Homo sapiens: one gene and its partner. The protein of the gene in region 1 purifies or fractionates together with the protein of each later gene. This does not show direct contact. Each region holds a gene or a part of one and is shown on either strand. Other genes may lie near its edges.

Region 1 (3,654 bases):
TTGTCACAAATGCACATAAAGGTCAGCCCCTGGTTGACAGCAAGGAGAGTGGTGTGGAGCTTTACTTTCTTGTCCTGCAGGCAAGCTGCATGGATAAAAATCTCCAAAGACAGCATGGGATTGGGGGCTTTGGGGTTGTATTTAATTTTTTGGTTTGTTTAAACCTTGCCTCATTCCAAAAGGACTTCTAAAAATACACATGATCTGAGAGAGAGGAAAAAGTAAAGATAAAGCATGGTCATCTAGAGGAAGGGAAGAATAGTAAGATGAAACAAGAGGAAAAGCTAGCTTACAGACAGACCTGCATGTGTAGTAAGGTCACTGTAGATTTGGCTCTCAGCTGCAAGCAGAGAGAAAAATCTCAAGATTCATAGTGCTCATAAAATTAAAATGTGTCACTTACTCTGAAAAGTAGTTATTTTAATGGCATTGAGATCTGAGACAGATTTTCCTGTGGGTTCTCTTAAAGTATTGGAGTGGCCTGGATATCTCTAGCAGAAATACAAGACAGAACATCCTAGCCATGTTTCTTACAGCTTCTTTCAGAGCAAGATTTGGGCAAAACAGCATGGCTCAATTCAGTAGACAATACTAAAAGGAAAGGAGCTAGGTGAGTAAGGACAAAGGACTTGCTGGAAGATATTAAAAACAAGGGACATTAAGCTATAATGCAGGCTAATAGCATCTTTCTGGCTGATCAGCACATCCCCAACAGGGGGCCGATTTGTGGAAGGAGGCTGCCCAGGGAAGTCCCGGGCAGATGCTAGTGGGAGACCCTGGCCATTTTTGTACCATCTGGAGGATAGATCAGGGTTACCTTGTTTGGGTTTTTGGCCATATCCAGAATTCATTTGCTAAACAAATGTTTCTTAATAAATGTAGCTCATATATTAGGCCCTGTGCTAGACACTGGGGTTCCCAGGAACAATAATCTATGGTGTCATTCACGAGGGTCCTGAGTCTAATGGGGAAGACGTATGTATCTACAGATATTACCTAGAGTATCCCATATTTACAAGTGGATGGCTGATCTCATTCATTTTGTTTTTTTTAAAAAAGCTTGTAAGTAAAAATATAATTTTTTTATTTTTAGAAAATTTAGAAAAAGGTAAACAATAAATATATAACTAAAATATAGGAATCATCCCTGTCATCTACTGATAATCACTATTTACATTTGGTTGAATATTCTTTCAGGTTTCTTTCTTCTTCACATCCATTTCATTTCAAAAAAGAAAATAAAAACAATTACCCTCAGAACAGCGTCTCAGCTTCCGTTTGAAAAGTCTTGCTGTTGGTTGGCATATGTTTCCAAAAGGCTATACGGTATTGCCTGCATTCTGCTTGAAAAATCAATTCTGTCGCAGTTTGACCTTTCCTTGCTTACTGATTTTGTTTCTGTAGAATCACTTTTGGCCACACAAGGTCTGTCATTGAAACTTTCTCCCTTAACTGTTATCTGTGCCACCATGGTACTCTACTAAGATGTGTTGCAATTTCGTGGTCTTCAGCTCATTCTTTATGATACCCTCTTTCTTTCTTTCTTTCTCTCTCTCTCTTTCTTTCTTTCTTTTTTTTTTTTTGGAGATGGGATTTTGCTATGTTGACCAGGCTGGTCTTGCTCTCCTGTGCTCAAGCAGTCTTCTTCCTTCCTGAGCTTCCAGAGTATCTGGAATTATAGATGCTCACCACCAAACCTGGCTGAGACCCTCCTTTCCTTTTTCTGAATGAGTACAACCTCTTAGTTTTACACATATAGCATTTATGTTGTTTTCAGCCACTCTCAGAAGCCTTGCAGTTCAATTAGCGTGAATCTGTCTGGCTTGTTAGAGTGTAGAAGTGTAGAAAACAGAACTTTTGTTCTTGTAAAATCTTTTTAAAAATATTTTATTCTGAGAGTAAGAATGGGCCAAAGGATACTGAATGAGATTTGGGCTGTAGAATCATCTCATTCTAAGCAGGTTTGGTAACTATCTATTGTAGTTGGAAACCTGGTGTCTGACCTTGGCCATTTTTTCCAAATGGCTTATTGATTTTGGTGGTGAAAGTAAAGCATAAATATTTCATGTGCCTTGTGAAAATAAATTCATGGAACTTTGAAGAAGCAAATGTCAGTGTTTCAGGTTTTTTTGTTATTCAGAGTAAAAACATCATAAAACTTAAAAGACATCACACGCATGCTGCTTAAATAACATTTTTGAGAAAAAAAGGTTTTTATCTAAAATGAACTTAATTTTTATGTATTTTTTACCCCAACAAAGGAATTAATCAAAAGTGAGGTGAAATATGCACGTGAATAGTCTTCTTTTATAAACTTGATACTTTTTATACCTGTTGGCAGAATAAAGCCTGAGAAACATCTTGAAAATTTCACAATGATGATGATGATGGGAATGGTTAACATATATTTGGCCCCATATGTCAGGCACTGCACCCAGCACTGTGTATGCTCTGTCTCCTTTAATTATTCTGACTTTCCTATCAGGTGGGTGGGTCCTCATATCCCTGTTTTATGGATGAAGTAGTACTTAATGAGGTCAAGTAAACTATCTAAGATCTCAAAGCTAGTGAGTGGTTGGTGTGACCTGGAAGTGGAACAGAAGCTTTAATTGAGTCCATGCATATGAGCAGAGAAACCTGCCAGAGATGTTATTGGGTTGGACCTGCTTTTGTTGGACAGTCATTTTATTAGCTTATGCAGTTGTATTATTGGTATTTGGTTTGTGTAACTGCCCTCTTTCAATGGATCCGTATTAGAGCATTAAACTATGCACTTTTTGAGAGTGGAACAGTCTTTTATTTCTTTGTAACTGCACAGCCACTAAATCGTTATGAATGACAGATAATGTAAAACGCTTTGATACAAAAAAAAGGTGGGTTTTTTTTTTTTTCCCTGAAAGAAGGTGGGGGTGGACTCAGAGACTGTGATTGGGCTTTTCTTGTAGCTTTACTACAAAGTAGCAAAGGCTGGAGGTTATGTGCTTCTGATAAGCATTCCTCCCTTCTGGAAATACTGGGGTCCCCTCCCTTGGCGTTTCAGCATTCCCACAATTTGACTTACGTGACTAGTGCAGTGAGATTTTCTAATACACACCTTATACCTCAGGGCATAACAGAACCCATTGCCAAAGTTGTCCTCACTTGCTTAATGGACAGGGAAAGACTACATTAAAAAAAAAATGATACAGGGACACCTTTCAGTGGGCTGATATGAGTGAGGTGTCAAGATTCTCTTATCAAATTAAAGGAGTTTCAGAAAAATGTACAGGCCAGGCACAGTGGTTCACACCTGTAATCCTGGCACTTTGGGAGGCCCAGGCAGGCAGATTGCTTGAGCCTAGGAGTTTGAGACCAGCCTGGGCAACATGGTGAAACCTTTTCTGTACAACAAATATGAAAAAATTAGCTGGGCTTGGTGGTGCGTGTTTGTAGTCCCTGCTACTTAGGAGACTGAGGTGGGAGGATCACTTGAGCCTGGGAGGCCAAGATCGTGCCACTGCACTCCAGCCTGGGTGACAGAGCGAGACCCTGTCTCAAATAAACAAACAAACAATACAACACAAATATTAGAACCAGGAGAACTTCCTGGTTCTTTTAAATAACTACATAGTATTCTGCTGAGCTCATTTAACCAGACCCTAATTAACGTACTTC
Region 2 (2,987 bases), on another chromosome or scaffold:
GTGTGGTGATCATGCCTGTGACCCCAGCTACTTGGGAGGCTGAGGCAGAGAATTGCTTGAACCTGGGAGGCGGAGGTTGAAGTGAGCCGAGATCGCGCCATTGCACTCCAGCCTGGGCAACAAGAGTGAAATTCCGTCTCAAAAAAAAAAAAAAAAAAAGAGCTATTTCCGTTTGTCTTTTCTTTCTGTGTGGCTATGAATAGACTGATTTCAAATTTAAGGTTTTCCTCCTAATCTTGTTTTCATTTTATTTATGATTTTGTAACACATAACAAGGTAGGCTGGGGGCAGTGGCTCATGCCTGTAATCCCAGTGCTTTGGGAGGCCAAGGCAGGAGGATCACTTGAGGCCTGGAGTTTGAGACTAGCCTGGGCAACATAATAAGACCCTGTCTCTAGAAAAAATTTTTTTAAAAAATTAGCCAGGTATGGTAGTGCACGCCTGTAGTCCCAGCTACTGGGAAGGCTGAGGCAGGAGGATCTCTTGAGCCCCAGAGTTTGAGGCTGTAGTGAGTCATGATTGTGCCCCTGCACTCCAGCCTGAGCAACAGAGTGAAACCCTGTCTCTGTGTGTGTGTGTGTGTGTGTGTGTGTGTGTGTGTGTGTGTGGAGCGGGAGGTGTGGAGATATGAACAGTGCAGGCAGAATCAGATTATAAGGGCACAGTCTTGGTGAAGGGGGTATGGATATTTACTGTAAAATACTCTCAATGTTTTTGCATACTTGAATATTTTTATTATAAAATATTAGGAAGAAAACACTTTCAGAAAGACACAAAAGTCAGACCAGGCGTGGTGGCTTCCACCTGGAATCCCAGCACTGTGGGAGGCCGAGGCAGGTGGATGACCTGAGGTCAGGAGTTTGAGACCAGCCTGGCCAACATGTTGAAACCCCATCTCTACTGAGAATACAAAAATTAGCTGGGTATAGTGGTAGGTACCTGTAATCCCAGCTACTTGGGAGGCACGAGAATCGCTTGAATCGGGGAGGCGGAGGTTGCAGTGAGCTGAGATTGTGCCACTGCACTCCAGCCTGGGCAACAGAGCGAGACTCCACCTAAAAAAAAAAATACACAAAAGTCAATGTGAAGACATAGAAAATGCTTGTGGAGTCTGTGCCTGCCTCCCTGCAATGTCCACTGGCTTCTCACTCACCCTGTGTGTTGTGATTTCATGACTGCTGTGTGCAGCACACTGGGTGGGTGTGAGCATGGGGCCAGGGTGTCTTTGGGGCAGTCTCGTTGTGTGAGGTTGGGCCAGTGACTTAGCCTCTCTGTGCCACCATTTCCACATCTGTAAAACGGGGCTGATAGAGCAGCCACCTCGTGGGGCCGTGCGGGTTGGGTGAGTTGGCCTGTGTGAAGTGTTCAGAACCTTTGCTTCAGGTCTGTTCACTTTCAGTTACTGCCCATTTGTTGACAGGTTTCATAAAATATTCTAGCTCTGGCCCTTGTACTGTTAGGAAAATAATTCTTAGCAAGTGTAGTTTCATTTTTATGGAGAGAAGTCCCATTCACCTCAGCTCTGGCCCACCAAAGGCTCAGGCTGCTGAGTGGGTGGGTGTGAGCTTGCGTGACAGGTCTCTGGTAGACTCACAGGAATGTTCCTTCTGCACTAGATTAAGATGTTCTACGAGGAGCATTTGCACTTGGACGATGAGATCCGCTACATCCTGGATGGCAGTGGGTACTTCGATGTGAGGGACAAGGAGGACCAGTGGATCCGGATCTTCATGGAGAAGGGAGACATGGTGACGCTCCCCGCGGGGATCTATCACCGCTTCACGGTGGACGAGAAGGTGGGAGTGCTGTGCTTTCTCCCCAGGCCCGGCCTGTGTGGTGGCCCTGGCCGTGGCATCTCTGCCGCTGAACTGCGCGGCTTCCGCAGACTCCAAGCGCGGTCGCTGGGCTCGGGACTCCTCGACCTGTGCTTCAAGGAGAGTCTGTGGAGCCGCAGGCGATGTCCGAGGTGACAGCTGTCCTTCCGTGGCAGCCTCCGTGGCCCCTGCCTGCGATCCTGGTGGACAGGTGTGCATTTCATACCCAGGCGGGGCAGGTACAGGCGGCGGCAGGTACATGCGGCGGCAGGTACACACCCACGAGCCTGGCCCTGCCCCAGCCCTTGCTTGGCGGTGAGGCATCTCTAGGGTTGTCACCCCAGCCCGTGTTTGGTGGTGAGGCGCCTGTAGGGTTGTTATGTTGCCATACTGTCACTTTTAAAAACATTTCAGTTTTGGAATTGAACAGTAACGCAGTCCAGTCAGGATTGGCAATAAACACAGATAAGGTAGTTTTGGGGTTCACTGGAGGCGATTGGGGTAATGCTGATTTAAGGGTAATTTTTGAATAAATACTAAATGCACATGGTTTAAAATTTAGAAATATGAAAGGGGACCTGGTGAAAGGTCTCCCTCTGACCCCTGTTCCCAGCCTCCCAGTTTCTCTCCCTGAAAGTAACCAGTATTCCACTAAAAAAATTATTTTTAGAGTGACTTTACACATATCCAAGTGCATGTCAGTCAGGATTCTTTTTTTTTTTTTTTTCTTTGAGATGGAGTCTCACTTTGTCGCCCAGGCTGGCATGTAGTGGCTTGATCTCGGCTCAATGCAACCTCCACCTCCCAAGCTCAAGCGATTCTCCTGCCTCAGCCTCCTGAGTAGCTGGGATTACTGGGGCACACCACCACGCCCGGCTAATTTTTGTGTTTTTAGTAGAGACGGGGTTTCACCATGTTGGCCAGGCTGGTCTCAAACTCCTGACCTCAGGTGATCCACCCACCTTGGCCTCCCATGGTTCTACATTTTACTTTTTTCTACATGATGTTCACTGGGGACTGTTTCATTTCAGTGTCTACAAGCCTCAGCCCTGATTACAGCTGCACAGTACTCTGGCGCTGGACATGCTGTACTGTATTTAACCATTAATTTATTTCAGTGAGTCATTGACCCCCAACAATGAGTATATACATTGTTCTCAATTTTTTGCTCTT

What was found.
Region 2: the proteins of OSTF1 (region 1) and ADI1 purify together in Homo sapiens (affinity purification with mass spectrometry; one large-scale study listed by BioGRID and IntAct). This does not show direct contact.

What each region holds. Positions count from the first base shown.
Region 1 is NC_000009.12:75,091,495-75,095,148, forward strand, and holds part of OSTF1 (osteoclast-stimulating factor 1), read left to right. Parts: intron 1-3,654.
Region 2 is NC_000002.12:3,499,623-3,502,609, reverse strand, and holds part of ADI1 (acireductone dioxygenase), read left to right. Parts: intron 1-1,616; coding exon 1,617-1,796; intron 1,797-2,987. UniProt on the Homo sapiens protein: Catalyzes 2 different reactions between oxygen and the acireductone 1,2-dihydroxy-3-keto-5-methylthiopentene (DHK-MTPene) depending upon the metal bound in the active site.